7 linked regions of the Homo sapiens genome follow. The protein of the gene in region 5 purifies or fractionates together with the protein of the main gene of each other region. This does not show direct contact. Each region holds a gene or a part of one and is shown on either strand. Other genes may lie near its edges. The genes, in order: TOR1AIP1, PGM1, RNASET2, PEDS1, NIT2, TIMM9 and LYRM4.

Region 1 (3,500 bases), on a different chromosome or scaffold from region 5:
ATGCAAAGCACTTACCTGGCACATAGTAAACACTAAGTGCTGTTATTAGTGTTCATACATATTACATGAAGCTCTAAAAATTAGAGGTTAATTAAGCCATTTATATAGCCAATAGTTTGCTGCCATTGCTACCAGCATAACTATTTGGAAGTACATAAACCTCAGGTCCTGTGATTGCGCGATCGCACTTCAGCCTGGGCAACAGAGCGAGACTCCATCTCAAAAAAAAAAAAAATATGGGCACTTCACCTTTTTGTATCAATGTGTCTGTTTCCAAAACAGCAACCTGATCACTTTTAAACTAATTTAGTTATAAATTCTACTTTTATTTGGGAAAAAATGTTTTTAAGAAGAGTAGACTGAAAGCAAGGCATGGTGATAGGTACCTATAGTCCCAGATACTGAGGAGGCTGAGGCAGGAGGATCCCTTCAGTTCATGACCAGCCTGGGCAGTAACGTGAGACTCCATCTCTTAAAAAAAAAGAAGAAGAAGAAAGAAAGAAAAAGAGTATACAAAAATATTGCCCACTTGCAATAAAAATTTAAAGCAAAAATGGATATTAATGATTTCAAGATGCTCCACTGTTGTAAACTTTGAAAATTTTCCGCAACTCAAAGGTTTTATTATGTCATTACCTTGGGGCATGTTCTGTATCATAACAATTTTTTAAGTGGTTATTAGCTAATATTTTAGATGTGACATGACTCTTTAGAAACTTTTTTAACCTTTTTTTTTTTTTTGAGACAGAGTCTCACTCTCTTGTTCAGGCTGGAGTACAGTGGTGCGATCTCGGCTCGCTGCACCTCTGTCTCCCTGGTTCAAGCAGTTCTCCTGCCCTAAGGCCTCCCGAGTAGCTTGGATTACAGGCACGCGCCACCACGCCCAGATAATTTTTGTATTTTTAGTGGAGACGGGGTTTCACCACGTTGGCCAGGATGGTCTCAATCTCCTGACCTCAGGTGATCCGCTTGCCTCAGCCTCCCAATGTGCTGGGATTATAGGCAAGAGCCACTGCACCCAGCCTAGAAATTTTTTAAATAAATTATGCATCCACGTTTTTAACCACCTGGGAGTTACCCGAATATTTTTGCTCTTTTTATTAATTTCTCACTGTTGTCTTGTAAAATGTACAGTCTAAAAGTTGGATATTATTTATAGTGTACTGTTTTTTATTTTTTAGATAAAACCACCAGATCATCTAGTCAATATATAGAATCATTTTGGCAGTCATCACAAAGTAAGTAAAGCTGTGTTTACAGTGTCTTCCTGTGAGCTTGGTCAAATGATGTTCCTATTTTTGAAGATCCTCTTTTGAAATTTAACGTAAATATTGAACAAGAGGAATAATGAATGCTAAAAAAAAACTTATCCGATATCTCTCTACCACTTGACCTTGCTTATTGAGTTATTATTCTCTATACCCAAACCTGAATTTGAACTTAAAAAACAAACAAAAAACTACTACTTCCTGTGATTTGTTGAATGTCTTTGCTAGCAGTATAAATGGGTTGATTGCTTTTATTTTAACAGACTAATGTAGTAGTTTGAGCCTATTTATATGCACTTATTCTAATAAGGACATAAAATTTTATATTAGTACAATTTCAACTCTGTTGTAAAAGTTTGGAAGGATGAATAAATAAGTGATAAAGCACATGTAATAAAAAGTTAATGGCAAGCTTGGTTATGGGTATATAAATATTCATTTCAGTCTTACAACTGAAAATTTTTGTGATCAAATATTGAGAAAGTATAACAAAAAAAGATTGGAAAGTCATATACCAAAATGCTAATAATGATTTGCTTAAGAATCATTGGTGACATTTTTTTAACTTTATTATTTTCTTTTTTCTTTTTTTGAGACAGGTTTTCACTCTGTTACCCAGGCAAGTGTAGTGGTGCCGTCATGGTTCACTGTAGCCTCGAACTCCTGGGCTCAAGGGATCCTCCTGCCTCAGTTTCCTGAGTAGCTAAGACTACAGGCACGTGCTACCATGCCCAGCTAATTTTTAAATTTTTTGTAGAGACAGAGTCTCACTATCTTGCTCAGGCTGGTCTCAAACTTTTGGGCACAAGCATTCCTCCCACATCAGCCTCCCAAAATGCTGGGATTGCAGGTGTGAACCATTGCGCCCAGCCACCTTTATTATTTTGTTACTACTGTTTTTTTCTTTTGACATTTTTAAATCAAGTCTCCCAAAATCTGAGTTAGTTATTAATCAACCAAAAATATCTTTGTATGTAAAAATCTTCAAGAACTTTTTTTTTCTTCCACATTACTTTCTTTTCTTAAGAAAAAACTTTTGGAAGGCCAGGCGTGGTGGCTCATGCCTGTAATCCCAGCACTTTGGGAGACCAAGGCAGGCGGATCACTAGGTCAAGAGACCGAGACCATCCTGGCCAACATGGTGAAACCCCGTCTCTACTAAAAATATAAAAATTAGCTGGGCGTGGTGGCGCGTGCCTGTAGTCCCAGCTACTCGGGAGGCTGAGGCAGAAGAATGGCGTGAACCTGAGGGGGCAGTGCGGAGCTTGCCGTGAGCCGAGATTGTGTCACTGCACTCCAGCCTGGGCGACAGAGTGAGACCCTGTCTCAAGAAAAAAGAAAAAAAGAAAAAGCCTTTGGAAATCTTTTTTAAAATCATTGTATTTCTAGAATTCAATTTTATATTTTTTATTTTAATTTTTAATAGGTTCTGGGTTTGTGACTATAAAATGAGACATAAAATGAATTAGCTGCTGGGAAAAAATCAGTTGTGGAAAATTACTCTTCGAATTATTTTATGTATTTGCCCTATTTTACTCCAAATCTTTGATCTTTGGAAACTCTTAAATGTATCTACCCGTATAAATGATATTATACCCATGCAGTGAGATACTATTTAGTCTGGGGACGGTGGCTCACACCTGTAATCCCAGCACTGTGGGAGGCCAAGGCAGGTGGATCACTTGAGGCCAGGAGTTTGAGACCAGCCTGGCCAACATGGTGAAACCCCGTCTCTGCTAAAAATACAAAAATTAACCACGTATGGTGATAGGTGCCTGTAATCCCAGCTACTTGGGAGGCTGAGGCAGGAGAATCGCTTGAACCCAACAGGCAACGGCGGCAGTGAACTGGGATTGCACCACTGCACTCCAGCCTGGGTGACAGGGCAAGACTCCATCTCAAAAAAAAAGAAATACTATTTAGAAATGAAAAATGAGTTAGTTCATTGTATCCTAATGAAAAGTTGATCAAGATATATTTCATTGACTTTAAGATACTATTGATTTTATGTATCAATGAGAAAGAAAAACCATCCAGTTAAACTATGCCATACCATTAATTAAAAGATATATCTGTAGATCAAAGGGCATTTTTTAAAAAGTATGTCTTAGAATTTGATGAAAATATTAAAACGTATGTATCCACTTTTTTAAAAGTATATTTTTAGTATAGGCTGAAAACAAAGCTGAGAGAATATCTGTCTTATTTACCATAATATTTCTATGTTCAATG
Region 2 (3,500 bases), on a different chromosome or scaffold from region 5:
CATTGGGTGGACATGATCATAACATTGGATTTGGATTCAGAGAAATGGATTAGAATTTTATTTCTTCCCCTTACTAGATTGGGGAGCCATTTAGCTTTTCTCTGTACTCAGTTTTGTCATCTGTAGAAATGGGAATAACAGTCCAGCTGTTGAGAGGATTAAATGAATAATGAGTCTGAAAATGTTTTGTTAACTTTGGGGCACTGAAAGCCTAGAAACTTTTTTTCATAAATTATAGAAACAGTTATGCTTAGTCCACATCGACTTTTCTGCCTTGTGAAATAGGTCCCCAAGGGCTATATACTTGTCAATAATTTTTTTAATTTATTCAACAGATATTTACTGTATACCCGATTTCCATCGGGTACTTGGAATTCAGCAGTGAACAAAATACTTAGAATACTTAGTAATTATTCCTTATCATGCGTACTTCTATTTTTAAAAAGCATTAAAAAATTTTTGACAGTAGTACTTTTCACTAATTCCAATTTGCCTTTCCCCCAGTTAGTGTAAAAATCTAACAAGAATTTTTCTGGACCTCAGTATTCCAATTATAGAGAGAAAATATGGTAAAAAGGATATTAGATGAATTGTTTATGTATAAGAAATGAATAGGTGTAATTTCTCTGGACCTCAGTTGCCTGTTCTATAAAATGGGTGAGTTAGACTAGAGAATTTAAAAAATATATCCCAGATTTTATAGTCCGTGATCTCTGGATAGTCAAGAAAGAATTCAACTAAGTAAATTAAGCTCCTTAATCAGAATTATTTTATTAACTTTGGACGGATTCATTGATCTCTTTCTCTCTCACGTTACTGTTTTGTGGAAGGAATAAGTAATAACTACCTGACACCACACAGTAGCCCTGGGAACCAAGGCAAAAAAATCCCTACTTTATAACAGACAGAAAAACCTGGTCATTCAGAACAGCAGTCATGAACTGTCTAGAACCTAGAGTATCATAAAAACAAGGCCATGTCTGTTTTTGTGCCCTAAGCACCCAACTCATAGTAGAGACTGCATAAATACGTTTTGAACCGATAAATGAATGAGTTAACAGGTGAACAATAGCCAGAGTAGAATAAGGTTAGGAGGGGTTGTTCAGAGAAAGGGTCACACCCTTGAATTAGTCACAATCCTCCATATAAAAACTATTTTAACATGATTTTATTAATTATCAAATATAATTGCTAACCAAGTATTACAAATCAAATCCTTAGTACCTGCATTTATGATTAGTTAAAACTCCATTATACCTTCCACTTACTGAACAAAAGCGCTAGGCACTTTTGCATGCATTGTCTCACTTTAGCCTCAAAACAGTTATTGATAAGGTAGCTGAGATTCTGAGAGATAGGGCAGCTGGCCCTGTAGTCACACAATTAATAGCCAATAGAGGCTGGATTCATAGCTCATCTGTCTGATTGCAAAACCCAGACTCTTCTATTCCACCCCTCTGTGCCTAGGGTTTAGAAAACATTTCTCTGGAGTACCCAGAGGTCAAAAATGTAAAGCACAAACACCTGGTTGTAATTTCTTGTTGTTTATCATGTTAACTAGGGGAAAGAGCTGACTTTAAGATTAAGGGGACTGTTTGGCCCTTGATTCATAGAATCCTGGAGCCAGAATAGGCTGGCCTTAATTCCTCAGCATTTCTCATGTCTCAGAGGTGTCATCTTGCATATATGATATCTATTTCACGATTACAAATAAATATAGACTCTGCTATCTTGAGCTTCTAAAAAATAACTCTCTCAAGAGGGTGTATGCCACTAGGTCAAGAAAAGCCACCTGTACAAGTCTTTAACATCATAAGAAAGAAGTCAAAAAGAATTCTTGAAGGAAAACTCATCTTTATAGAATTTCATTTGTGATGCACTTTTTTCCTTGGCCCTTTTTCATCCGCACTGGGCCTCTTCTGTCAGGGTGAACCCAAAGGACCTTGGACCAAAATCCACTGCCACTGAAAGGAGGGAGGCAGAACTTAAAATAAAACAAAATTTAAAAAAAAAAATTGGGAGAGCATCAGGATAAACAGCTAATGCATTTGGGGCTTAATTCCTAGGTGATGGGTTGATAGGTGCGGCAAATCACCATGGCACATTTACCTATATAACAAACCTGCACGTTCTGCACATGTATCTTGAAACTTACTAAAATTAATGAAAAAAAAAAAGGCATTTTAGATGTAAAGAGTCAGTGTTTGGCGTCTTCATCTGGTCGGTGAAAACTTGGCCCTGCTTTAGGAAGCTCCTGTGGAGCTGGAACTCTGCTTAGTCAAAATCTCAGCAGCCTCAGGCAGGTCTCAGGCTGGGAGCAGGCCCAGCATTCACCCCAGAGAAGCCCAGGGAGCTTGGAGGAGAAGTGCCTGAGTCACGTGCTCCTTTCAAGAGAGTTCTCCAGAGATAACATTGCTTTTCATTTTACCTCCTCAGGATGTGGTGACTAAATGTTAGATAGCATCTTTCAAAAGCCTTTGAAACATCTTAGAGCTTTATTCTGTAGAAATGCCAAGATGGGTGTTTTCTGCTTATTCAGAAGCTCATAACCCTTCCCTGAAATCCTCCAAACCCTTCCTTTCATCCCTGGCCTGTTCCATCCCCAGTGACTGACAGGCCTGTATTTTTTTTGCCAGCTTCTTCTGAAGTTAGATAGTTTTGCGGGAGGGCCAAACAAATGATGAAGAAAGTGCTGACTGATAGGCCTTGGTGTGATCTGCAGTCAGCCCGTGGGCCTCAACTTCGTGACTTCTTCCAGGTATGATTACGAGGAGGTGGAAGCTGAGGGCGCAAACAAAATGATGAAGGACTTGGAGGCCCTGATGTTTGATCGCTCCTTTGTGGGGAAGCAGTTCTCAGCAAATGACAAAGTTTACACTGTGGAGAAGGCCGATAACTTTGAATACAGCGACCCAGTGGATGGAAGCATTTCAAGAAATCAGGTAGAAACAGACCGGTGTGTAAGTGAGAGAGAGACCTCAGAGCTTCATCTCTGACATCTCAAGGGAAAAATTAAAAAGTTCCTGTTGGCTATTTTTCTTTTGCTGCTGTGTTTTTCTAGGGTAGCTGTTCTTACCTGGTTTTCTGCTGTCCCACGTGACTCTCACATGCACTCGTTGGGACAGTGGTTTATGCCCTTGTTCTGTGCACTGTCCAGTACCCTCATTCTGGGATTCTTAACCTGGACTCCAGAGGGATTTTTGCACTCTCTGGAATGATATGCAAGATGATGTGTCCATTGTACATGCAGAAAGGAGCCCCAGAATCTAAGAAAGAGGGAGAACTGTGGGAACTTAGATGTCAACTCCTCTCTTTTCTGTCAGCAGATTATAGCAGAGTGACAGCATGTAAGTGGCATTATACTTATACGTTTCTCTCGTATGTTCTAATTTCTAAAGGAGAGAAAAATAGATGAGGCATTCCCAGACTTAGAAACGTTGACCATCGTCATTCGCAGCACATGAGTGGCACCCCACCTAACACAGCAGTACCTGGCAAGA
Region 3 (3,500 bases), on a different chromosome or scaffold from region 5:
CATCATGCAGCCACTGTCTCTGCTGTCCAGTCCTCACCTATGCCACATTGTCCGCATCTACACTGTACGGCCCTCCCCTGTGCCATCCAGCTGGCATCTTCTATGTAACACAACAAGAGCTGGAAGAGAAGAGGCCCTGGTCCCTGGGCGTGGAGGCGCAGAGCCACCCAGGACTGCAAAAGAACTCTTAACGGCCAACCATGGAACTGGGTGTTGATATCCCATGGAACTTGCTAAACTAGGTGAGCAGAAGAGCACTCCAGGCCACCCAAACTGCGCGGAGAATCCAGGCACAAGGAAGTGCTAAGCAGAGCCCTCATGGGCTGTGGGGAGTGGGTGGAGGCACTGCCAACAGGGCAGGAGGGATTGAGGGAATGTCCCTGAGCCGCCATACTGGGGAGGTGTGATCTGGGAGCAGAGAGCCATGGTTGGTTACGGAGAGTGGCACAAACACGGTGCCAGCGTCCAGCACTGACAGTCAGGTGGCGTGGCAGTCAATGCATGGCCCAGATGGGAGACTGAGGCTTGAACTAAGTCAGTAATGAGAAGGATAAGCTGAATATAATTCAGAATACTTTCACAATTTAGGCAAAATTTTTTTAAAAAGTTTCCAGTTCACTTTGAGGTTTCTACCTGGAATAAGCGGATGGTGATGTCATTCACCGAGATGGAGGCAAAAGTTTCGGTGGAAAGATAAGATACCTGGGCCAGGCGCGGTGGCTCACACCTATAATCCTAGCACTCTGGGAGGCTGAGGCAGGCAGATCACCTGAGGTCAGGAGTTCCAGACCAGCCTGGCCAACACAGTGAAACCCCAACTCTACTAAAAATACAAAAAATAGCCGGGCATGGTGGCGTGCCTAGTCCCAGCTACTCGGGAGGCTGAGGCAGAAGAATTGCTTGAACCCAGGAGACAGAGGTTGCAGTGAGCCGAGATCGCACCACTGCACTCCAGCCTGGGCGACAGAGTGAGACTCAGTCTCAAAAAAAAAAAAAAAGAAAAGAAAAGAAAAGATATCTAGTTCTGAATATGATACAATTGCTACTGTTAGTTATTCAAGCGCATAATGATCTCCCACTACTAGCTTGGAGAGAGGGATTGCTTTCCAGGTGACAAAGCATTGTCCCCTCCCAGGCCAAGAGAAATGCTCTTGGGTACAGCAATAGCCCTGCTGAGAAGGGGCTGGTCTGAAGGAGTTTCATGGGAACCTGGTTTTCTTGTCTCGCTTTTACCTATGGTGTCTTTTTCCACCATAAGTTCCACTCATCCCTGTGGCCTAGTCCACGGGTCCTCTTTTCCATGGTGCCGCAGAGATGCTCCAGGCAGACGCCTGCTCTGGCTGAGACCCGGGCCAGCTGCCCCTCCTGGCTGCTCTCCATCCTGAGATGCGCCTGCTCCTTTGTCCCCCTGGGAGACACTTGTACCCCCAGCTCTGATCCCAGAGCCTGGCCTGCTCCTCCTTCCACACATACGAGCCTGAGACCCCGCTCACATGGGAGGCATTTCTCAGTCACCTCCGCCCAGTTACAGCGAGAACCGTGTGGTCAGAGTTGCATCTTCCTGAGTTGAATCTGGAAAATGCACGACCTACTTGTTTAATGATGTAAAAACATGTGCTTGGATCTGATCTCCATCACTGAACCTTAAACGCAGAGTCTTCCCCTTCTGTCTCCTGCGGCTCATAAGTGCCTTATACTTACATGATCTGAGGCAGGTTATCAAACGCTCATGTTCTACCTGCTCCTGAGCTCTAGGCCAAAATAGGAATATTAAGAGAGCCAAGCATTTGCTTGTGCTCATGTTTTGAACCATCCAGCCCCTCACCAGTGCCTTCTTCCATTTAGCTGACGTGACAATGGCAGGAAACCAGCACTCCGCAGCCCATGCCTCCCACCAGGATGCTACCTTGTTGGCGTCCCCATCCGCTCTCAAATGCTCACACTCATATAATAAATACACGCTACTTAAAAAAAAGAATGGCTTCTTTAAAAACCGCAAAGGCCAGCCGACTGCAGACAGCCTCTGAAGAGCTGCTTTCCTTGACCCCCCAAGGCTATAAAATAAATGCAATTTGAATAGGAAGTCTGTTCAAATTCACCAGCTCCTCTGGGAATAATGAAGATAAAACCCAAGCCTTGATCCCTGTGTTCGCAAAATGACTCAAAAAAAAAAAAAAAAAAAAAAAGAATTGACATCATTTAAAGGACTCTGAGGCTTAAGAGTCCAACTCTAAAGTACACCCACTCCCTGAGGACGCAGAGCAAATGCAGGAAATCACGCCCTTCCAGGTGCAAAACAAATCAGATCTTGTCCCTCTCACAGGCATCAAAACACAAATCATCAGTTCCCGACAGAAACAAATCCTGCCCTGCCAAGCCAACAGAAAAACACTGGAGACAGAAATGAGCTCAGAGAAGGGCCGAGGGACAATGACAAGGTGGGGACCCTGGACCCTTGGGCTCCGCTAGCCTTCCCCACAGCTTGCAGAAGAGGGCTCAGCTCCTCCATTACAGAAGAGACAAAATACAGGGACTGCTTCCATCAAATCCCCCATCATCTCACTCTGTCTGTCTGCAGAAGCTGTCAGGCCTGGCTGGGTGCTGCCTGTCTCAGGCTCTTACTGCAGAGCTTGTTTCCAGAGGGCCAGAGGCCGTCCTGTGTCTCCTTTAATGCCTGCGGGGGACGCAGAGGCCACTGAGTCTAGGATCAGGACTGCGACACCTACTTTCTCACCGTCCCATCTGCCTGGTAAACCTTTGTCTCTCTCTGAACATTCTGCATTTCAGACTGTCTTGTAGACACCATGAAGTGAGGTTTTGGTTTGAGCCAATTTGAAAATCTCTTCTTTAAATGGGCGAGTAAAGCCGAATATTCACAGGCATTGATACAGCTGTTTTTTTTTTTTTTGTAAATTATGCTGACAATATGGTTATTCTAAGGATTAAATATTTCACGTGTTGAACACAATGCCTGGCACATAGTAAGTTCTATTTTAAATGTATATTGAATAAAACATAAATAGGACGTTAATGTGATTAAGACAAACAGAGAAAAGGATTTAAAGAGAGAAGAGGCCAGGAGACGCGGGAGAAGACAATGCTAACAGGTTGTCTTAACAACACATGGAAAGCTCCTCACTGCACAGCCCCCAGATGCCTCACTCCACGAGTGAAATCCCTGCACGGCAGGCCGAGAGCGTGGGTGCAGCAGTCTGCCTGACGTGAGAGCCATGTCATCACATATCTAGAAGGTAAGGGTACCTCCGGTTCTGGAACACACAATGTAGGCACATTTCGCTGGGGGCTCCATGTACATTTCTAAATAGATACCAGTGCAGGGACCTGGCTACCCTCTGATAAGAAGGAAGTGAGGCCTGACAGAAACTGACCTTCCAGTAACCTGGAAGAGACTGCTCTGACGGAGACAGGAGATGGCTGCTCTGTGAATACACCCAAATCTCCTAGGGCAGGAGGGGCAAAGTCACCGTTCTAGGACACAC
Region 4 (3,500 bases), on a different chromosome or scaffold from region 5:
AAAAAAAAAAAAAAAAAAAAGAGGGGAGGAAGGCTGGGCGCATTGGCTCACGCCTATAATCCCAGCACTTTGGGAGGCCACGGTGGGAGGATTGCTTGAGTCCTGGAGTTCAGTACCAGCCTGGGCAACACAGCGAAACCCTGTCTGTATATAAAATAACAAAATTCGCCAGGTGTGGTGGCATGTGCCTGTGGTCCTACTGGAGGCTGAAGTGGGAGGACTGCTTGAGCCTGGGAGGTTGAGGCTCCAGTGAGTCGTGATCGAGTCACTGCACTCCAGCCTGGGTGACAGAGGAAGACTTCATCTCAAAAAAAAAGGCGGGGTGGGGGGAGCAGAGTAACTTTTGTTTGTTGTTTTTTTGAGACAGACTCTCCCACTGTGGCCCAGACTGGAGTGTGGCGGTGCCATTCACAGCTCACTACAGCCTTGAGCTCCCATGCTCAAGCGACCCTCCCACCTCAGACTCGTGAGGAGCTGGGACTACAGCTGTAGAGACAAGGGTCTCACCATGTTGTCCAGGCTGACCAGTGAACTCCTGAGCTCAAGCGACCCACTCACAAATCCTAAAGTGCCTCCCAAAGTGCTGGGATGACAGGCGTGAGCCACCGCACCCAGCCGAGGGTAACTTAACTGTGGAGAACTCTGACATCTGCTACCTTAGTCATGGGATCAGAGTCATCACAGTGATAAGTCATGTTGACAGTCTGTACTTTTGCTATGATGTGATGAAAATGGCACTTCACCTCTGAACTCTTCCTCCTCATAACCCGTAACCCCAGTCTAATCATGAGAAAAACATCAGATAGATACCAACAGAGGGGCAGCCTACAACACACCTGACTAGCACTCCTCAAAACCGTCAAGGTCAGCCAGGCGCGGTGGCTCACTCCTATAATCCCAGCACTTTAGAAGGCCGAGGAGGGTGGATCACAAGGTCCGGAGATTGAGACCATCCTGGCCAACATGGTGAAATTCCATCTCTACTAAAAACGCAAAAATTAGCCGGGCGTGCTGGCGCGCGCTTGTAGTCCCAGCTACTCGGGAGGCTGAGGCAGAAGAATCGCTTGAACCTGGGAGGCGGAGGTTGCAGTGGGCCGAGATTGCGCCACTGCACTCCAGCCTGGCAAGAGTGAGACTCCGTCTCAAAAAACAAACAAACAAAAAAAACTGGACAAGAGGAGCCTAAAGGGACATGACAACTAAAGGCCATGTGATACCCTGGATGGGATCCAGGAACAGAAGAAGGACATTAGGGAAGAACTAAGGCAATCTGAATAAGCCATGGACTCCAGCTCATGATAATGTATCAACACTGGCACACACTGTAACAAATGTGCCCCGCTAATGTAAGATTTAGGATGTGAATAATGGAGGAAACTGCGTGCCCCAGGCATATGGGGACTCTCTGTACTATCTGCCCCATCCTTCTGTAAGTTGAAAACTTGTTCTAAAAAATAAAGTCTGTTTTTCAAAAAGTGGACAATCTCACTTCATGTCCACAGTAACAGGCCCCACCCCATCCTGACCTTCCAGAGGAGGGTAAGAACTCCCCAAGGTCACACGGTGGCAGGGGCAAGGCAGGGCTGCTGGTGAGTAGCCAGAGACTCGCTAGAGTCATTCAGGATGATGCAACCTTAGGGTTAGGGTTAGGGAGACTTCGCACCCAGGTATGGAGAATGGGGACATTTACCTCCCTTAACTATGAGAAGTTAATAAAATGGGCTGCTGGGTAAAGGGCCCGGTGGGTCCCACGACACAGCAAGCATCCCCCCAACGCAGCTCCTGTGAGCTCTCTGCTGAGCCTCAGTCTTGCCATCTGTCCAATGGTCAAGGCCTGGCGCCTGCACGCTGCCCAGCAGGGAGGGATGTCTGCTTTGGACAGAAGTCAGGAATCATCTTAGGAGACCAGGAGCCCTCCCCCTGGCTCCGTGATCTTGCGGCCTCTGCCGGTGGCAGTGACTCCAGGCTGCTGTCTGAGGCTGCTTTAATGGGGGCAGGGGTGGCAGACAGGCACACAGAAGCCTCTTTGTCCCAGCTTTGGGGTGGTGGCAGCTGGCAGCCGGCTCCCCCTGGGGGCAGCTTCGGCTTGGTTACCACCCTTCCCCGCAGAACACTGGGACAAGGAGAGGGATGGGAGACGGCTCACCCCAGGCTACCCTGACTCACGGGGGAACTTGAGGTAGTCGCTGGGCCCGTGCGGGCTTCCATTTCCCCAGAGGTCACCCAGCTGGGACTTCCTCACCCCTCCCTGCCCACCTCAAAGGCCTGGCGTGGAGATGGAAGGCGTGGCTGAGGAGCCAAGTGAATGCACTGAGGGCAAATCCATGGGTTTCGGTCCTGGGTCCCAGTCCTGTCTCTACCGCCTTCCAGCTCAGTCAGATCCAGACTCCACTTCCAGCCACAGGACGGGCCACGACCCGAGCCTGGGACTTCTCTGACCTCATCCCTGACCTCTGGACTCACTGTGCCCTCTGCCCGGAAGGCTTCTCCCAAGGTCCACGAAGGACTCTGCTCCTTTAAGGGCCAACTCACAACCCAAACACTTCCTCCCCCTTCTCCACGTGGAACAAAAGCTCAGGGCTCCTACGGCCTTCACTTGTTCACCCACTCACTCACGACAACGATGTGCGTGTCACAGTGGCTGATGACCTCCACGTGGCTAAATCCAAAGGTCCCTTTACTGGCCACCTTGCTGGTCCACTCGGTGGCTGTTCCCAGTCGACCCCCAAGACTCCTGGAAACACATTCTCCTCTTGGCCCCTGCAAGCCCTCCCTGGTTCTCCCCCGACCTCCCTGGTTCTCCCCCCATCTCCCTGGCAGCGCCATCCCAGCCTCCCTTGCTGGCTCTTCCTCCTCCCCAGCCTGGAAACACGGGAGACTCAGCCCCTGGGGGTGCTCAGCCAGCCTAGGAGATAAGGAGCTTCATCTTGACACAGATGACCCCCGGATTTCTTTCTTTTTTTTTTTTTTTTTCCAGAGGAAGTCTCACTCTGTCGCCCAGGCTAGAGTGCAATGGGGCGATCTTGGCTCACTGCAACCTCTGCCTCCCGTGTTCAATCAATTTCTCCTGTCTCAGCCTCCCCAGTAGCTGGGATTATAGGCGCCTACCACCATGCCCAGCTGATTTTTGTATTTTTAGTGGAGACAGGGTTTCACCGTCCCAAAGTGCTGGGATTACAGGTGTGAACCACCATGCCCGGCCGGACCCCCAGATTGCTATTTCCAGCTGCCTCTCCCTGCCTCCAGACCTAGATTTCCAGTTTCCTGCTCAACACCTCTCCTTAGCTCAACAGCGGCCATCTCAAGCATCTCCCTCAGGCCTGCTCTGCCGATGACCTCTCTCCATCTCTGTGAATGACAGCTTCATCCCTTCCATCTCTCAAGAGAGAAACCTTGGAGTCAAGCTAATTCTCTCTCACCTCCACAGCCAACCTGGAAGCACATTCTGGCAGCTCACCTTTCACAGCTCCTCCAGAATTTGACAACGCATCACCACCTCC
Region 5 (3,500 bases):
GGGATCTAATTAAACTAAAAGAGCTTCTGCACAGCAAAAGAAACTACCATCAGAGTGAATAGGCAACCTACAAAATGGGAGAAAATTTTCGCAACCTACTCATCTGACAAAGGGCTAATATCCAGAATCTACAATGAACTCCAACAAATTTACAAGAAAAAAACAAACAACCCCATCAAAAAGTGGGCGAAGGACATGAACAGACACTTCTCAAAAGAAGACATTTATGCAGCCAAAAAACACATGAAAAAAATGCTCACCATCAGTGGCCATCAGAGAAATGCAAATCAAAACCACAATGAGATACCATCTCACACCAGTTAGAATGGCAATCATTAAAAAGTCAGGAAACAGCAGGTGCTGGAAAGGATGTGGAGAAATAGGAACACTTTTACACTGTTGGTGGGACTGTAAACTAGTTCAACCCTTGTGGAAGTCAGTGTGGTGATTCCTCAGGGATCTAGAACTAGAAATACCATTTGAGTAAGGTAACTTTTTAAAGAGAAGGTTCCATGGCTCTGGCTTCCTTCTACATCTGAGTTAGCCTGAACTATCCTATTTTTTAAAAGAAGGATCTATCTACTTGGGTTAGAAAAATGTCAGATTTATAATGTACGATTTACCTCTTTCCTGTCTATTGACTACAGGGCTGTTGATAATCAGGTGTATGTGGCCACAGCCTCTCCTGCCCGGGATGACAAAGCCTCCTATGTTGCCTGGGGACACAGCACCGTGGTGAACCCTTGGTGAGTAAGGCTAAGTGAGAATAGGCTCAGTCGGAGCTTGAGCTTGAGTGGTGGCTCGTTGGCAGATGGGTTTTCTGGTTCCTGAGCAGCCAGGCGCTCACTTCTCACTCCCATTTCCCCACATATCCTGCCAGCTTTCTGCCTGTCTCTGTGAGAGGAGCTTCCATTTGAAAACCATGTGAGAAGCAAATCACCCTGCTCTCATGATCAAGCACTTGGCCTTAGCCCTCTTCTGAGTTTCTGGTGACCTTCACTGTCAGTCATACTTGGATCACATGGGGAAACAAGGCAGCAGTGACAGGCAGGTTGTAGTAAGAGACTCTGAAATTTTTGGTTAAAATTTAAGTTGGCTGACTAGTCCCAGGGTAGGAATGAGTTACAGGGTGAGGACTTTGCTTCCAGCATAATGATCAGAGGAGCAGTCAGGATGGTTCAATAAGTGAAACTATGACCCTCTCCCCAACAAAAGGGTGAAGCATTTTATTACTCAGTGGAGCCAGCACATAAGCCTGCCCAGACAGAATTACAGTCATACGCTCATACGCATTCCTTACAGTCTACATTTGTACAGTTTACATCCTACTTTCACAACATGGTCTCAACTTGAACTCTCAGGAAATTGTTCTTATTAAGCCCAGTTTATAGATGGTAGAATTACAGAGGAAGCGACTGGAATTCCAGATGTAGCGGCTAGACCCAGTGTTTGAATCCAGGATATTTGCCTTCAGAACTTGGATGTATTCCACACTAGTTCTCTGTATGAAAGCACACACACACACTGGTATGTATGTCTACATTTCAGGATGAGTATACCAGTAACAAGACTGAGAAGAGTTAAATGTTACTGTGGGGTTCCTGAGGGTTCTGTCTTCTGCCTTTATAGGTAGGGCTCAGAGCTCAATGTGTGTGGTGGGGAGGCCTTGGAAGATATGACTAGTGTGAGATTCCAGTTGGCCTCCTGCACATTAGGCTTGGGGACATTGAAGGACTAAGTTGACTTGAAAATTTTCTTGAACTTGCATCAGGTTCCACTGTCCAGAAATCTTTGAATGCCAGGGCAAATGGGGAAGAATCAGAAAAGAATTCAGTTACGTGTCATAAATGGTGGTGCTTGTATTTGTAACTCATTTGTGCCAAAAGTCTGTCTGTGGCTATCTGGTAAACAGAATCAGTTGTTATGTCAGATTATTTTGGAGAAGGTTCATTTCTCTAGGTAAGGGTTTGAACCCTTGCTCTGGGCCAAGAGACTAGACACTGGAGATAGTTTCTTTTTTCTTTTTTTTTTTTTTGAGATGGAGTTTCACTCTGTCGCCCAGGCTGGAGTGCAGTGGTGCAATCTCAGCTCACTGCTGCAACCTCTGCCTCCCGGGTTCGAGCCATTCTCCTGCCTCAGCCTCCGAGTAGCTGAGATTACAGGTGCACACCACCACGCCCAGATAATTTTTGCATTTTTAGTACTGATGGGGTTTCGCTTTGTTAGCCAGGCTGGTCTCGATCTCCTGACCTCAAGCGATCCACCCACCTTGGCCTCCCAAAGTGCTGGGGTTACAGGCGTGAGCTACCGCACCCTTCCTGGAGATGGTTTTACAGGTCAGCCTTACCCTGGATTGATGAAGGAGTGTGGCTGTTCCCTAGTGCAGGGCTCCTGCCAGTGTGAGGTTACCCTCCATCCCCCCATGCCACTTCTACCCAGTCGCCAGAGGTTGAACTCTTTCCCTCAAATCTGAAACTGAAGCCCATTAACACAGGGGTTCAGGTATCACAGCCACCAGGGCAGAGACCCCAGCAGATCTGGGGCCCTGCCTAGGCCCAGCTTCACCACTCTCAGGGAGGGTAGCAGCCCAGGCAGGTATGAAGAGTGGGTCTGGACTGCCATTGTAAAGGGGGGGTCCACTGAAATGCACTCATGAGGGCATGAGATGGAGCTTCCTGTTGGTGGTAGGTAGCTCTATTGCCAGATCTTTATAATCATCAGATAACCACCGTCTCCTAGTGATTTGCAATTTATGAAACATGATCCATAATTTTATCACTAAGCCCTCACAGAGCTCTTATTTCCACTTTATAGATTAGGAAATGGAGATTTAAAATGCCTTCCCATAAGGTCACAGAGCTATTTAAATGATAGAACATAAATCTGTACGACTACCTTCTTGTTTTCAATCTCATACTTTCCCCTTTGGCCTGTGAGCTTGGGAGGAAAAAACAGAGACCTTGAATATCACCAAACATCAGTGAATCCACTCATTCTCTTCTGCATCTTTTTCAGGGGGGAGGTTCTAGCCAAAGCTGGCACAGAAGAAGCAATCGTGTATTCAGACATAGGTAAGATTTTCCTGGGCATGGTTTAGGTCTCTGATGTCCCCATTGTTCTGAGGCCAGACTCCATGGCTGGGAAGTCCCTGTCATTTGGAGGGGTTCCTTTATGCCCCTTCTCATTGATCTCTGGGGATATTCTAGGGTCTGGTTCTCTGGCCAATCCCTGGGGAGTGTATCAGCTTGAATTTTCTTGGTTTGGTTTGAAATGATGCCAGGCCATCTGTGCACCTAGATAAGACCTATGTTACTAAGTTACTTACTAAGACTCTGGTGGTTTATACAGTCAGGGGAAGAAATCCCCTTGGTTAGTGAGGAGTTGCAAATTATTAATAGTGCACTTTCCTGTTTTTTGCAGACCTGAAGAAGCTGGCTGAAATACGCCAGCAAATCCCCGTTTTTAGACAGAAGCGATCAGACCTCTATGCTGTGGAGATG
Region 6 (3,500 bases), on a different chromosome or scaffold from region 5:
GTCATAATAGCTTATAAGACATTTTATAGGTCTTAAATAGGTCATTTTATAGGTGCAATGGGGAAAATACTGGATTTTGAAGTCCAAAGACCTTAGTTAGGCTCCAGCTGTCCAGTTACTATCTGTATAAGTGACCTCATGTAAGTTTCTTAAGATTTCTGAACCATCCCTCCCAGAATTAGTAGGAAAATCATAAGGGAAGTGTAATGTATACTTATACCTGGATAAATAAGGATAGCATGACATTAAGTATTTTTTTTAATAGTAACACATATGCCAAAGAATTGTAACCTCAGAATAGAGGAAACTAATTTCACTTACTAAAAAGGAAGAAACTTTAAAAAAATAAATGATTAGCCAATAGAAGTTTACATTTCATTGAAAAGACTATTAGAACTTGAAGGGGACTTAGTAATCATATTACCTCATTTTTCAGGTAAGAATCAGGCCTTATTGGAGACATTCAAGCAAAGGTTGGACAACTACTTTTCCAGAACAGAAAGGAAACTCATGCATCAGAAAAGGTTAGAGCTTGATGACTGATAAGATCTCCCTTTATTCTTAAGTTCCCTGGTTCTAGGATATATTTTGTTTGCCACAAGAATAACAGCATCATTGTAATCATTCCCAAGATCTAAGCCAGTGATTCTTGAATTTGCTTATTTCTTCTCTCCCTCTCCAGGTTTCAGGGATATAATCAGAAGGTAACCCCTGATGGGTCTTTGCCACAGTAACATAAATTTGCTGTAATATATGGAAACTAGGATCAAATAAAAGAACAACCACATTACTGCTACCTGTTCTCACCATCAGGTGGTTTATGTGGCTGGTGGAATTTGTTAGTCTAAGCTTACTATTAAATAACTGCGAAGTGAATAGTGAAAAATTTAGAAGACCTCAAATTAGCAAGTAACTCTGAAAATCATTGATTTACTCAGTCATCTCCAGTATTTTCTCTGAACCAGTTGCCTACAATTATGTATACCATAATCTTTTTTTTTTTTTTTTTTTTTTTTTGAGACAAAGTCTCGCTCTGTCACCCAGGCTGGAATGCAGTGGCACAATCTCAGCTCACTGCAGCCTCTGCCTCCCAGGTTCAAGCAGTTCTGCCTCAGCCTCCCGAGTAGCTGCGATTATAGGCATGTGCCACCATGCCCGGCTAATTTTTGTATTTTTAGTAGAGACGGGGTTTCACCATGTTGGCCAGGCTGGTCTCAAACTCCTGACCTCAAATGATCCACCCGCCTTGGCCTCCCAATGTGCTGGGATTACAGGTGTGAGCCACTGTGCCTGGCCTATACCGTAATCTTGATAGATACTGGTGACTACCGAGGATAGCTTTAGAGATTTAAGCAGACTTAAGAAAACTTCTGATTGTTAGCTCTTGAGTTCAACTGTTAGGTCTGGAAAAAAAAAATACCAAATTGGTCTGGGTGCAGTGGCTCACGCCTGTAATCCCAGCACTTTGGGAGGCTGAGGTGGGTGGATTACCTGAGGTCGGGAGTTCAAGACCAACCTGGCCAACATGGTGAAACCCCATCTATACTAAACAAAAATTAGCCAGGTGTGGTAGTGCATGCCTGTAATCCCAGCTACTCAGGAGGCTGAGGCACAAAATCACTTGAACCCAGGAGGCGGAAGATGTAGTAAGCTGAAATTGCACCACTGTACTCCAGCCTGGGTCTCAGAGTGAGACTCTGTCTCAAAAATAAATAAATAAATAAATCTCAAAAATAAGTAAATAAATAAATAAAATACACAATTGAGTGATTCTAAAGAAAATAAATCATAGTGTTAACATAGTGGTCTGTGAATGGTAGAACTATCTTTTGTTTTTCAAATTCTCAATAAATATATTACTTTTATAGTATGACAGACTTTATTTCACTGAAAAGAGGAAACATACACTGTTTAAGTAATGTATATTAATACATTAATGAATAAAGAAGATTCATACCAACAGCACTTGGGGCATTCCTCATATATGTCTTTTCAGATTTTTTAGTAACAACCATCATTTATCACCATGAGATATATAATAAGGACAAGATGTGTGTAGAGGCAGCACAGGGTACCAGTATGAAACTTAGAGAACATTTAAAGATTTCATACTTTCGACTGGGCACAGTGGCTCATGCCTGTAATCCCAGCACTTTGGGAGGCCGAGGCAGGAGGATCACCTGAGGTCGGGAGTTTAAGACCAGCCTCACCAATGTGGAGAAACCCCCGTCTCTACTAAAAATAGAAAATTAGCTGGGCGTGGTGGTGCATGCCTGTAATCCCAACTGCTTGGGAGGCTTAGGCAGGAGAATCGCTTGAACCTGGGAGGCGGAGATTGCAGTAAGCTGAGATTGTGCCATTGCACTCCAGCCTGGGCAACAAGAGCGAAAACTCCGTCTCAAAAAAAAAAAAAAAAGATTTCATACTTTCTGTCTCTCTGACCTCGGGTTGATAAGTCAATAAATAAGAATTTTAACCCAAAGAAATACAAGGATGGAATTAAAAAAAAAAAAAAAAAGAACAGATTTTGGCATTATAAGAAGGAAATCAGCTCTGTGTTATTTTTTGATGTGAACTGTAGAAAGTCCAGTTTGCTGGGTGTCCTCCTGAGGTGCAGTGAGTGTACTGTCCTTATTCGACAATTCAAAAGGCTCAGGTCTAGTAGATGACCTTTTGAACTTTCAGCTAGGAGCCTATTGGTAAACAAAGTTCCTTAATGCATATTTTATTACCCTTGTATTTTTTTTCAAGTTCTCACAAAACAGTGATTTCATTTAATACTTCTTTAGAAGTTGTTTTACCAGTTCTTAGATCTTTTCAGACTGTTTTCTGAGTGGGAATCCAGAAGAACTCTAGCTTGGAATGCTTGCTAACAGTATCTACCACGCTGCATGTTGTTCTTTGGCAGGTACCAGAAAGTTATACAATAACATTTTTTTTCTTTATTATTAAACTTTTTATTTTGAGGTTAGTGTGGATTGAAATACACTTCCAACAATTAACACAAAGGTCCCCTGTGTCCTTTACCCAGTTTTCCACAATGGTAACATCTTACAAAACTGGAGTACAATGTCACTCACATCCAGGATACTAATATTGATACAATCAAGATACAGAATATTTCTATTACAAAGGTCTTGTGTTGCCTTCTTATAGCAACACCTACTTTCTTCCTACTCCTTCCCTCATCCATTCCTTAACCCTTGGCAACCATATGTTCTTCATTTCTGCAATTCTGTTATTTCAAGAATGTTGTATAAGTGGAATTATACAGTATTTAACTTTTTAGGATTGGCTTTTTTCCTCAGCAGAATTTTCCAGGCTTTTGCAAGTATCAATACCTCATCCTTTTTATTGCTGAATAGTATTACAGGTATAGATGTACCAATTTGTTTAACCATTCACCCACTGAAGAACATTTGGGTTTTCAGTTTTTGATTATTAAGAATAGAGTTTCTACAAACATTCACATATAGGATTTCCTGTGAACACAAATTTTC
Region 7 (3,500 bases), on a different chromosome or scaffold from region 5:
CTGACGTTCTAATTACTCTTGCGGATGTTATCAGACCACGCAGGAGATCATGCCGCTGCACATGCTCCACCCACCTCATGAGAATGAGAAAAGGAAGCACAAGTCAAGGTGATCCTTGGCACTTCCACAAAACGAAAACTAACACACCCTCCAGGTTCCTTTATGGGGTCAGCACCCAAGCAGCTGTACTTTACACCATCTGCACCTGCAGATGCACCTCCCATGTGGCAACGTAATTCAGGTTCACCACCCACAATGGTGTCTTCAAGAAAAGGGCCACGTTCTGTTTATCCTGAATTATGATTAAAAATACTAGGAAAGGGAGAATATATTTATACTCTGAAATATATCCAAGTACACATGTGCGATACATCTTACAAAAACTTAGCTTTCAAAAAAATTAATGCAGAAGTTTCTCATACTTAAAAGTATCAGCTTTCCAGAAGGATACACTCCCTGGAAATTCCGGAAAGCTGGTATTTTAAGTTCAACTTGAATCTGAAAATATGAGAGTTCACCTTTACATGTCTGTATTAGTACAAGGAACAGAGTTTCATGATCCTGCTCTGTAAATCACCAACACCAAAAGCACGGCTGTCTAATCAAGGGGAATATGTCGAAGTTTAAAGCTCTTAATGAAAAACAGTACATCATTGAACCATCTTACCTGTCGACGAATTACTCCAAGGTCTCTCTTGGCTTTATTCACTAGGGTTTGAATTTCTACAGGATCCTTTACATTTTTATTTTCTCTGAAGGCATCTCTTATCCTCCTGACAGCATATGTTCTAAATGAATTCAGAGGAAAAAAAAGAAAAGGTGTCAGCGTGTCTGAGGCTATGCTTTCAAATGAATTTTAAAGTTTTTCCTTTAGAATTAACTGTTTAATCTTCCCCTACGGATAATCCACTTTGATCTTTGCTCGTGGCGCAGGCTGATCCACTACCATTCTGGGATGACTAAGCAAACAGATTTAGGAAAATAAATCTACTCAACAAGTCACATACAAATGGCAAACTGCTACTGAAGTGTTCCTTAGATTATTGGTTCTTTAGCCTTATTCACATCTGGCTTCATTCCATTTACATGGATAATTGAACCTTTAGTGTACAGAGACAAATCAAGAACTCAGAGGTTAGCGGCAGTGAACCATGATGGTGCTACTGCACTTCAGCCTGGGCGACAATGCGAGACCCTGTCTTAAAAGAAAGGAAGAAAAAATTCAGAGGTTACATGACGATCGTATTTGCATGTACCCAGATAGTGACCTATGCTTTCCAGTCCTTGTCCCATATTCTGGCTCTCACTTCCCTTTCTGTTGTCCACATTAGGATCCCACCACAGTTGAACCTGTGGAATTAGGCCAACACGCTTTCTTTACCTCCATCTTGAAAGTGCACACGCCTACCACCCACCCCCAACCAGACAGCTCACTTGCAGTACAGGACAGCAGTTCCAGAGCAAGGCTTGCCCATCGGACAGGCTTGGGTTTGTAGCCTTGCTCCAGCTTCTACTGTTTGTGTGAACTTGGGCAAGCTTCTTAACACAAGGCCGTGTCTCCTCATCTGTCAAAAAGGCATAATACTGCTAAAGGCTGCTGGGAGGACTAGGCTTTATAATGTGTGTCTGGAATTTGGCCCAAAGCCTGTTACATAGAAAGACTCAATAAATGAAAGCTATTCTTCTTAACACTTGTTATGCCTTAATGCAATTACTGTTCCCTCTCCTCATGCCATAACCTTGCCTTCATCCTGCATCCTTACAGTCACACCATAGTGTGTGTACAGAAGGTAGAGTGGTGTGGATAATTAGCCACAACAGACAGCTCAGCAGTCCTTAGACACAGCCTCATACTCAGATGGCTATGGCCTATCTCTAGCTCTACCCCAACTACTCCAGATTGAAAGGCATAAGACTAAGGAGAAGCAGACTGAGCCAGGCATGTGAGACACCATTTTCTCTATGTTTTTTTTTTCTTTTTTAGAGATGGGGTGTCCCTCTGTTGCCCAGGCAGTGTCATGATCATAGCTCACTGCAATTGCAAACTCCTGGGCTCAAGTGATCCTCCTGCCTCAGCCTCCAAAGTGGCCAGGATTATAAGCACCCACCACCACGCCTGGCTAATTAAAAAAAATTTTGGGGGATGGGGACTTGCTGCGTTGCCCAGGCTGGTCTTAAACTCCTGGGCTCAAGCTATCCTCCTGCCTTAGCATCTCAAGGAGCTAGGATTACAAGCACACACCACAGTGCCTGGCTCTCTCGTCTTCTTAATGATCACAGACTGCTCTGCTTTTAACTTGGAGCACCGGTTAAAGAATCCATGTGATGCCAGTAGTAATATTTAGCAACAGAAGAATGGAAATACAGGCAAAGAAATGAGAGGAGGGGATATAAATTTCCTTGGGAGCAGCGCGGAGGGGGTGTTGGGAGCTCATATAACTTATTGGGAAACTTTATCTTAAAAAGGACAAATTGTTTCAGATAAAGTTTTTTAAAGTAAAAAGGCATTTTACATTAAAAAATTCAAATGTCAGGTCTATTTGCATTTAAAAGCAAGAGTAAAACTAAATCTTATGATACTAGGAATCATAAAGGAGAAGGGAAGAGTTTAGGAACCGGTACTTAGAATGTAAGACACTGCTGAGACTTTGATCTTAACCCTCTGTGAACCAGCTGGAGTATTTCAGAGGAGCTGCTGAGCGCTCAGTATCAATCCTAAAGGGCTACAGCGATTGGGCATGGAATCCATGTACTAGCAGCTGCTAAATAACTGGGGCTCATTCACTTCTAAAGGGATATGGGAGGATTTTACAAATGGAATACATCAGATACAGACTCTCCTCAGGTGCAGCTGCTAATCTAACAAGATTTTAGATAGCAGCTAGGTAAATTAACAGCAATTTCTGGCACTTTCTTGCATAGCCTAATGGCTATTTATAAAACACAGCATCACTGTTCTTCTTGACAACCACATACTCCTCCAAAGCAGTTTCTTTTTTGGCAATGATGGCAGCAAAGAGGGGACAAAATAATTTAATTCTAATATTTGTTCCACAGGCAAAATTGGTTTATAACATGAATTTACCTCCAGGAATCATCTATTGTTTAAATTTTTCATTTCGTATGCTGCATGGGCTTCTTGGAAAAACAAAATGGGCAACAGTAGCTATTGCTAAACTCATTTTTCTAAAAGCTAGTAACTAGCTTAGAATAGCTAGGAAAAAAGGAGTACTGTTTGGAATGTAAAGACCTAAGGTCTTCCAAAGTTTAAGGAAATGAGAAAATAGCTTAAAACACTCAACAATTTATATCAACTGAGCTCAAGGCCCAGGGTCAGGATATTCTGCTATGTATACTTGTTTGTCTCCCCAGCTCTCCAAAGTCCTTACCTAAAGAAAAGCAGCTCTAGATCTTGGAATTAAATGTGTCTAAAGCAATCAAGAGTCATGATTCAAATTTTCGATGCACTTTCGAGATGAATGCTGTAATGGTTCCCTCCT

Evidence for each region.
Region 1: the proteins of NIT2 (region 5) and TOR1AIP1 fractionate together in Homo sapiens (co-fractionation; one large-scale study listed by BioGRID). This does not show direct contact.
Region 2: the proteins of NIT2 (region 5) and PGM1 fractionate together in Homo sapiens (co-fractionation; one large-scale study listed by BioGRID). This does not show direct contact.
Region 3: the proteins of NIT2 (region 5) and RNASET2 fractionate together in Homo sapiens (co-fractionation; one large-scale study listed by BioGRID). This does not show direct contact.
Region 4: the proteins of NIT2 (region 5) and PEDS1 fractionate together in Homo sapiens (co-fractionation; one large-scale study listed by BioGRID). This does not show direct contact.
Region 6: the proteins of NIT2 (region 5) and TIMM9 fractionate together in Homo sapiens (co-fractionation; one large-scale study listed by BioGRID). This does not show direct contact.
Region 7: the proteins of NIT2 (region 5) and LYRM4 purify together in Homo sapiens (co-immunoprecipitation; one large-scale study listed by IntAct). This does not show direct contact.

The regions. Positions count from the first base shown.
Region 1 is NC_000001.11:179,902,785-179,906,284, forward strand, and holds part of TOR1AIP1 (torsin-1A-interacting protein 1), read left to right. Parts: intron 1-1,181; coding exon 1,182-1,238; intron 1,239-3,500. UniProt on the Homo sapiens protein: Required for nuclear membrane integrity. Induces TOR1A and TOR1B ATPase activity and is required for their location on the nuclear membrane. Binds to A- and B-type lamins. Possible role in membrane attachment and assembly of the nuclear lamina.
Region 2 is NC_000001.11:63,648,911-63,652,410, forward strand, and holds part of PGM1 (phosphoglucomutase-1), read left to right. Parts: intron 1-2,758; coding exon 2,759-2,942; intron 2,943-3,500. UniProt on the Homo sapiens protein: Catalyzes the reversible isomerization of alpha-D-glucose 1-phosphate to alpha-D-glucose 6-phosphate. The mechanism proceeds via the intermediate compound alpha-D-glucose 1,6-bisphosphate.
Region 3 is NC_000006.12:166,925,551-166,929,050, forward strand, and holds part of RNASET2 (ribonuclease T2 precursor), read right to left. Parts: 3' UTR 1-3,500.
Region 4 is NC_000020.11:50,136,724-50,140,223, forward strand, and holds part of PEDS1 (plasmanylethanolamine desaturase 1), read right to left. Parts: intron 1-3,500. UniProt on the Homo sapiens protein: Plasmanylethanolamine desaturase involved in plasmalogen biogenesis in the endoplasmic reticulum membrane.
Region 5 is NC_000003.12:100,351,757-100,355,256, forward strand, and holds part of NIT2 (omega-amidase NIT2), read left to right. Parts: intron 1-647; coding exon 648-746; intron 747-3,015; coding exon 3,016-3,071; intron 3,072-3,420; coding exon 3,421-3,500. UniProt on the Homo sapiens protein: Has omega-amidase activity. The role of omega-amidase is to remove potentially toxic intermediates by converting 2-oxoglutaramate and 2-oxosuccinamate to biologically useful 2-oxoglutarate and oxaloacetate, respectively.
Region 6 is NC_000014.9:58,421,032-58,424,531, reverse strand, and holds part of TIMM9 (mitochondrial import inner membrane translocase subunit Tim9), read left to right. Parts: intron 1-436; 5' UTR 437-524; intron 525-3,500. UniProt on the Homo sapiens protein: Mitochondrial intermembrane chaperone that participates in the import and insertion of multi-pass transmembrane proteins into the mitochondrial inner membrane.
Region 7 is NC_000006.12:5,215,951-5,219,450, forward strand, and holds part of LYRM4 (LYR motif-containing protein 4), read right to left. Parts: intron 789-3,500; coding exon 668-788; intron 1-667.